2 linked regions of the Homo sapiens genome follow. The protein of the gene in region 2 interacts with the protein of the main gene of each other region in a pairwise test. Each region holds a gene or a part of one and is shown on either strand. Other genes may lie near its edges.

Region 1 (3,809 bases), on a different chromosome or scaffold from region 2:
CATCACTATTCTGCCTTCCCCAAGATCCACTGCCACACTCTACAGACTAGCCAGGCTGACTAATGCCCCCACTAACCTAGAGATACAGCCTCCCTTGAAACCGATCTCTCCAGAATCACTTAAGCTTCATTCTCTGACCTCTCACAAACTTTGACCTTCACAGGCACTGACCATTCAGATGCTAACACACACACACACACACACATTCATCTTCCCCAAATTCATCTTGACCCCAATACTGACCCCCAAAGACCCTAACTCTCCAGACCCAATTCCAGACATCTTCTCCCCCTCATATGAATTTCTCAAGACACTAACTCCCCCGTACATTAGTCAACAGAGATCATTCATTTCTACAGATATAAAGACTCCTAAGAGTCTTTAGCTTCTCCAAGACAATGGCATCTGCTGACCATGTCTTGGTAACGATTCAGTTCTTACCCTCCCACACATGGAACTAGCTTCCTGAAGAATCTTCCTACTACTGGGAGACCGATCAGTCCCAATCCCTTCCTCTCTGCCACCTGAATACCCCAAATCTCCCCTCCTGCTCTCCTGAGAGTATAACCTTCCAGGCATAAGGCTGGTCCTGCCTAGGGTGGGCCCATTCTAACTGCCCTCTCCTGCTGGTTTCTTCAGCAGAGGCCTGAGTGCAGCCTCCCACCTCTCTCCCCAGGCCCAATACAGTGGATTCCTCTTCTTCCATGAGGGGTGGCCGCTCTGCCTGCATGAACAGGTGGTGGTGCAGCTAGCAGCCCTACCCTGGCAACTGCTGCGCCCAGGAGACTTCTATCTGCAGGTGGTGCCCTCAGCTGCCCAAGCACCCCGACTAGCACTCAAGTGTCTGGCCCCTGGGGGTGGGCGGGTGCAGGAGGTTCCTGTGCCCAATGAGGCTTGTGCCTACCTATTCACACCTGAGTGGCTACAAGGCATCAACAAGGACCGGCCAACAGGTCGCCTCAGTACCTGCCTACTGTCTGCGCCCTCTGGGATTCAGCGGCTGCCCTGGGCTGAGCTCATCTGTCCACGATTTGTGCACAAAGAGGGCCTCATGGTTGGACATCAGCCAAGTACACTGCCCCCAGAACTGCCCTCTGGACCTCCAGGGCTTCCCAGCCCTCCACTTCCTGAGGAGGCGCTGGGTACCCGGAGTCCTGGGGATGGGCACAATGCCCCTGTGGAAGGACCTGAGGGCGAGTATGTGGAGCTGTTAGAGGTGACGCTGCCCGTGAGGGGGAGCCCAACAGATGCTGAAGGCTCCCCAGGCCTCTCCAGAGTCCGGACGGTACCCACCCGCAAGGGCGCTGGAGGGAAGGGCCGCCACCGGAGACACCGGGCGTGGATGCACCAGAAGGGCCTGGGGCCTCGGGGCCAGGATGGAGCACGCCCACCCGGCGAGGGGAGCAGCACCGGAGCCTCCCCTGAGTCTCCCCCAGGAGCTGAGGCTGTCCCAGAGGCAGCAGTCTTGGAGGTGTCTGAGCCCCCAGCAGAGGCTGTGGGAGAAGCCTCCGGATCTTGCCCCCTGAGGCCAGGGGAGCTTAGAGGAGGAGGAGGAGGAGGCCAGGGGGCTGAAGGACCACCTGGTACCCCTCGGAGAACAGGCAAAGGAAACAGAAGAAAGAAGCGAGCTGCAGGTCGAGGGGCTCTTAGCCGAGGAGGGGACAGTGCCCCACTGAGCCCTGGGGACAAGGAAGATGCCAGCCACCAAGAAGCCCTTGGCAATCTGCCCTCACCAAGTGAGCACAAGCTTCCAGAATGCCACCTGGTTAAGGAGGAATATGAAGGCTCAGGGAAGCCAGAATCTGAGCCAAAAGAGCTCAAAACAGCAGGCGAGAAAGAGCCTCAGCTCTCTGAAGCCTGTGGGCCTACAGAAGAGGGGGCCGGAGAGAGAGAGCTGGAGGGGCCAGGCCTGCTGTGTATGGCAGGTGAGATGACACGGAGTGAGGCTCATGGGGCAAGGGCCAAAGCAGGTCGGGCCTATGGGAGGGGGCAGGAGGAGGAGCAGGGTTAGGCTGGGAGCAGAACAACCAGAACCATCTTAACTTCAGTCCCATGTTTCTGTCTGTGTCTGTGCAGGACACACAGGCCCAGAAGGCCCCCTGTCTGACACTCCAACACCTCCGCTGGAGACTGTGCAGGAAGGAAAAGGGGACAACATTCCAGAAGAGGCCCTTGCAGTCTCCGTCTCTGATCACCCTGATGTAGCTTGGGACTTGATGGCATCTGGATTCCTCATCCTGACGGGTCAGTGGGCATCAGTGGGTGAAGGGAAACAGGACTGGGAAAGAGAAGCAATTGGGTGGGCTTGGGGACTGGGGGAGGCAGGGTGGAAAGGAGGTAGGCATGGACTGCTCCCAGCCAGGACAGCCTGGCCATTTTGTGTCTTCAGGAGGGGTGGACCAGAGTGGGCGAGCTCTGCTGACCATTACCCCACCGTGCCCTCCTGAGGAGCCCCCACCCTCCCGAGACACGCTGAACACAACTCTTCATTACCTCCACTCACTGCTCAGGTAACCGAGGCCCAGTCCTGGCACCCTGGACACTAACCTCCTGATTCATGAGGACCCTCACCTCCTTCTTCTCAGGACACTGACCTTCTGACCTCTAAGGACACCTACTTCTTCAACCTTCAGACTTCAAGCCATTGACCTTTGGCCTTACTTACCCTGACCTCCAGCTTCATATCTTCACTGATCTTCAAAAGCAACACTGTTGACTTTCACTCTCTTCCAACCCTACCAAGATCATCAGGACATTGGTTCACTGATTCAACAAACATTTATTGAGCACTGAGTACCTATTAGGCACCATACTACAGGCTGATATTGAATGCACGCCATTTCAGAACAGAATTCTTAATTTTCCAGACCTTAATCCCTTGACCTAGTAGCCATATGAATATAGACCCCTGACTGCTAGGTGACTTCCTCTTGTACACACACCCCAGAATTTGGCCCTTTGCCCATTTCTTCCCAAATGTACCGGCAACTAATTTCTCCTCAGGACTATTAACTAAAAACAGACCCCGTATGTCTGCCTTGCCTTATCTGCTATCCCCCAAAACACACACACAGCAGCCTCCTTGGCTCTTCCTGCTCCCGCAGGCCTGATCTACAGACACTGGGGCTGTCCGTCCTGCTGGACCTTCGTCAGGCACCTCCACTGCCTCCAGCACTCATTCCTGCCTTGAGCCAACTTCAGGTAACCACCCCTCAAACAGGCAGTTCCCCTGGATCCTAACTCTTCACCAGTGGCCAGTCCAGGACACCCGATTGCCCAGTTTAGGGTTATTCTTTTCTGCCCTTAGGACTCAGGAGATCCTCCCCTTGTTCAGCGGCTGCTGATTCTCATTCATGATGACCTTCCAACTGAACTCTGTGGATTTCAGGTTTGAGCCCTTCATTCCCATCTAGTTTCCCATCAGTAGTGGGGAGAGGAGAAGAGGCTGGCTGGAGCCCCAGGCTGGTTTCTGAGTCCTTGGGTGCCCAGGAAGAAACCCCCTGCCTTACCCTCTACAGGGTGCTGAGGTGCTGTCAGAGAATGATCTGAAAAGAGTGGCCAAGCCAGAGGAGCTGCAGTGGGAGTTAGGAGGTCACAGGGACCCCTCTCCCAGTCACTGGGTAGAGATACACCAGGTAAGCTTCCCCTCTACCACCTAGCATGCTGGGAGCCAGGAATAACCCAGCTGAAGACATTCTAGGAGAGAGGCCATGTCCAGGACATACCATGAGGTTGCAAAAAAGTGGTTTCCATTCCATTCAATTCAACAAGTATTTATGGCTCCCAAATCATGAGGAAAACATGTGCAC
Region 2 (4,457 bases):
TTTCTAATCCTAGGATTGAAATTCTTCTCTAAAACTAACAATTGAAGGGACTTAAAAGACATTTTTTTCTTTTTTAATATAATGCATCTCTTTGCTAAGTACAATATGTCTAAACAACCATATTCTGGATGTAATATGAATCTCCCCCATTCTTATATTGTCTTCATTAAACATATTAAGCCCTAGAGTCATGACAGAAAATAAGGTAAGATAAATAAAGTGAAATTCAATATAATTTTACATTTAAATTTGATAAATGTCAAAATAATTTTGAACTTACTTTTGTGAGAGATCTGGCCATGTCCTAGAAGAAAGATAAAATTAGCAAACACATATAGATTTGTTTTTAAAGATGCTACATTATATCTTTTATAAAATAATTTGATTCTCAAAATATGTAACATTTTCTATCTATATATTATCCTGAGGAATAAAGCAGAACCATAAATGCTAAACAAATTATTAATCATAAAAACTAAATATTTAAACAAACAAATGGAATTTTTATTAAGTGCCTTCTATGGGATTCAAACCTAGGACTATGAGACTTCTGAGGCCTCTTATTAACTATAAGACTGTAACACATCCCACCTTCAAGGCTGGCCACCCACTGAGAGAGAGAGAGAAAGAGAGAGAGAGAGACTGAGAGAGAGTGACAGAGAGAGAGAGACAGAGAGAGTGACAGAGAGAGAGAGAAACCGAGAGAGAGTGCGCAAATCCATCTCTTTATTAAACAGGCATGACCCAGATCTTGTATTTCAGCCCATAAAAGATTTTATTTCACTTTCCTACATGTGCTTTCACAATAGTAAAATAAAGATTTATAGGAATGTTTACCATAAAGAGCCTTTAACAGGGCCACTTGTTTTTCAATTGAGGAATCTGACAAGAGACGAATTGTCATTAACTACATGTTCCACTGACCGTGCGATGAATTCAAGGAAACGATATTTCTATCCCAAGACAAATGTACTCTCACCTCAGGGAATGCTATAAAATCCTCTTCCACATGCACTTGGATCATCCGCAGTACTACCCCTGGAGGCCCGTGCCTTCCCTTTGTCAGTTTGGATCTTTAGTCAAGGGAGCGCTTCACTCGAATACAGTGAGGCATGCGAACCAGATCTTTCCCTCCCCCCGCGGGCCCGTGCGTGCCTTAGTGCGGTGTGGGCCAATGTCGCGCCTGGGGAATTACACCCCTCTTGGAGTGGAAATCTCTATTCAGAGCGAGAGACCCTGGGGTACTCCAGGAAGGAGTGAGCAGACAGGGCGGGCTGCCCAAGACACCTAGGGACGGTCGCCTATCTCACCAGCATCCCGTTTGCCCATTAATCCAAAGAACTGCTGAGGCTTGGGTCTCCGGGCGATTCTCTGCAGAAGATGCTCAAAGGGCTCCGGCAGTTCCTCCTGGGAGACAAAAGCACGGACAAAGGGCGTGTAAGGCAACCAGAGCGAGGCACCCAGCAACCCGAGCCCTTCCCCCCGCTGTACTCCGGCCCCGAGGCGTGGGGAGGCGGCCTTCCCCACGCTCGGGCTGAGCGGGGTCCCTCCCGAGGCGCTGCCTCTCTGCGCCCCTCCCCGCCGAACTCGCGTCCCGCCCCCCGCAAGCCTGCCAGGGCGAGTTAGCAGCTGGCTCGGCGTCTTCAAGCTTCGAGCGCTTTCCGCTCTTTCCTCCCAGCCCGGGGACCTTCCCTCATCTGCTGCGCCGCCACCTGACTTTGTCTTGTCTCGGTGCCGGCTTTGTAGAGTCCTCACCGCCCTAAATGCACACAGGTGTGTGGGATCTGGGGCTGGGGCTCCGGTGGGGAAGGGTGACAACGCTTTACAGACGACTTTCACCGTTTTTCCGAGGCGCGCTCCCCAGCGCCTGTAGCCTACGAGTTTCTAAAGGGAGACTTCAAGCTACATCCTCAGGTCCGCAAAACAAACGTGAAGGCAGGAAATTAACTTCCCTCCAGCCTCCGGCCCTCCAATCCCCCTGCAGCTCGCGCGTGTGCCCGCTGCTGCCCGCGACCCAGGCGCCCTCCTCTGCCCGTGCCCAGACGCTAGGGCAGTGCAGCTGGACCGGAGCCCCCGAAATCCCAGGTCCTGGGGGATGAAATCTTACGAGATTTCCCGCCTTGTGAGGATCTCGGGCTCATCCGGGAGGGCATCCCTACTGCAGGGAGTTCCTGGGCCGGACGGTGCAGCCCTCGGGAAGAAACTTGAATCGTGGGCACAAAATCCCGTGGGGAACCCGGGAAATAGTGCCCCTTTCCATCCTCTCGCACGCAACCGCTGCCTCTTTCCGTGGTGGCGGTGCGTGCCACGTTAACTAGGGTGCTGTTGCGTGGGAAGGTGACAGCTCCCGAGCCCAGGAAGAAGGGTGCGGGCCGTCCTGGGAAGGGGCCTCACCTTGATCTGGTCGCTGTCGTACCAGTCGGACCAGTAATTCAGATCATCATTGGCTCCTATTTCTTCTGCAAACAGCTGAGTGGAGACAAGAAAAAAGACTGCCAAGGCCACGAGGATTTTCATGTTGGATTTCTGGGAAGGGGTAGGAGGAGAAGACACCAAAGAGAGAAATAATGTATCTATTAGGGGTGGTTATCCAAGAGTTAAAGCAACAGAATTTTCTGCCCCACAACGGATGAACCAAGATCAAAAACATAAGGACTGAAGTCTCACCTGTACCGGTTAGGCGAGAGAATCGCGTCCCAAAGATTCTCCAACCCTCTTCTCCCTGAATCCCAACTCCCCCAGCCCCCTAACCCACCAACCCACACCTTCAAACCAGGAAACTCTGCAGGTGGAAGACAAAGAGGGGCGTTGGCGTTTGGGAAGCCAGTCTCCCCACTGTCCCTCGCCGCAGCGGCGCCCCCAGCGCGGCCACCTCGGACAGATGCGGGGCGGGGTGACCCGGGCAGCCGCGGCCAGCACCGCGCGGGCACTTACTGCGACGGACAGTCCCGCGGGGTGCTGAGTTTCTCTGGTTCCTCCGAGCGCACGCTGGTCGCTCCGCACTCTCGGTAGCTGCCGCCGGGAAGGAGGTCCGAGCGCGCTCTTTCGCCTGCTCAGTGCCTTGCGGTATTTATCCCAGCCTCCTTGAGCCTCCAGACCCACGTGACATTCTCCCCACGCGACTTTCTGCTCAATATTTAATTAGCCGCCTCCTCTCCTTTCGCTTGCGTGATTGAGAGTTTCCGAGACGGTAACTCGTCGATGCCCATAACATCTGGACCCAATTGGGTTCTAAATGACGCAATTTTAGGAAAATCGAGGTCTCGCCATCCAATCCGGAGCGGCCTGCTTCCGTCTGCAGATCTGACGCCCCCTCCCCTCTCCTTCGAAACTGGGTTTCATGACACCTGATATTACTCATCAAATTTGAGCAAAGTGACTCATTCCTTGGACTTCGGTAACTTTTCCGTCCCTCGAGACGTCAGGATAAGTTGCACTTTTCAGGATGGCCAAATAACTGTAGGCATTCAGACATTTCGTCGGAAATCAGGCTAAAAAAAGAGGACTACACTTGAGGGGAGATGCGGGGAAGCATTATTTTCCCTTCTATTTCTAGCTTAATAGTATTTAAGTGTTTCTGAGACACAGCATCGTTCTATAACCAGAACATCCCTCTTCTAAATCAACGCGAATACTGGCTTTTCCTTAGCATAACAAAAGGATGTTTAGTCCCATAGTATTTTAGAAGATGGAAGCAGATTTATTTTACATTTTGGAGAAAGGGGAATTTAAACATGACATTGTGTGTCAGACTTAGGATTTCTTTTGTTTCAAGCCGGGTAACTCCTCTTCCTTGCCACATCCAGGAGCAGGGGTTGAACAGGACGTTTTTTGCTTCTCTCCTACACTTTCTTGCTGAAGACTAGGAAACCAGCAACATAGTGTGTAGGATCCTCACCCTTGTCACTAAAGGGCTCTATAAATCATGTTTCTCCTTTCTATGAAAGTAAGTGTAGTGAAGATGCTAATGGGACAGTCATTAACAGCACAAAATATTAGACAAATAGCATTTGTACAGAAACCACACCTTTCCATGAGCCCTTGGTTGCCTGGCAGACACATTTCTTTGATCTCCAAATGAATTAAAAGATGTGACATCTTTGGTGGAGTAGTTTTCTCCCCTTTACATATGAAGTATTATATTTTTCAATTAATTATGATTTTTTAGTATATTGCATAAAAGAAATAAATTTTTGCAACTCAAACCAGAAGTATTTTTTTCTCTATGTTGTTCTTAAATAATCCTGAATTTGGAAATTCTCATGCATCTCTGATTTCTTTTGGCCTTAGCCTCACAATGTGAGCATTTTATTTTCCGTTTTCAGAACTTTTATATGGAAAATTATAAGCATATCCAAAAGTAGAGAGAAACATCCACTTCCAAGTTTCATCTACAACCCTTCCAGTTTCCTCTGCACTGAGATTATTTTGAAAAAAATCCCAGACAGTTAATCATT

Evidence for each region.
Region 1: the proteins of TAC1 (region 2) and ARHGEF40 interact in a two-hybrid assay, tested with the Homo sapiens proteins (one large-scale study listed by IntAct).

The regions. Positions count from the first base shown.
Region 1 is NC_000014.9:21,073,256-21,077,064, forward strand, and holds part of ARHGEF40 (rho guanine nucleotide exchange factor 40), read left to right. Parts: intron 1-676; coding exon 677-1,925; intron 1,926-2,076; coding exon 2,077-2,244; intron 2,245-2,367; exon of another isoform or gene 2,368-2,389; coding exon 2,390-2,510; intron 2,511-3,104; coding exon 3,105-3,201; intron 3,202-3,280; exon of another isoform or gene 3,281-3,307; coding exon 3,308-3,388; intron 3,389-3,518; coding exon 3,519-3,635; intron 3,636-3,809. UniProt on the Homo sapiens protein: May act as a guanine nucleotide exchange factor (GEF).
Region 2 is NC_000007.14:97,730,673-97,735,129, reverse strand, and holds the start of TAC1 (protachykinin-1 isoform beta precursor), read right to left. Parts: upstream 3,045-4,457; 5' UTR 2,935-3,044; intron 2,527-2,934; 5' UTR 2,518-2,526; coding exon 2,395-2,517; intron 1,408-2,394; coding exon 1,311-1,407; intron 883-1,310; coding exon 838-882; intron 305-837; coding exon 281-304; intron 1-280. UniProt on the Homo sapiens protein: Tachykinins are active peptides which excite neurons, evoke behavioral responses, are potent vasodilators and secretagogues, and contract (directly or indirectly) many smooth muscles.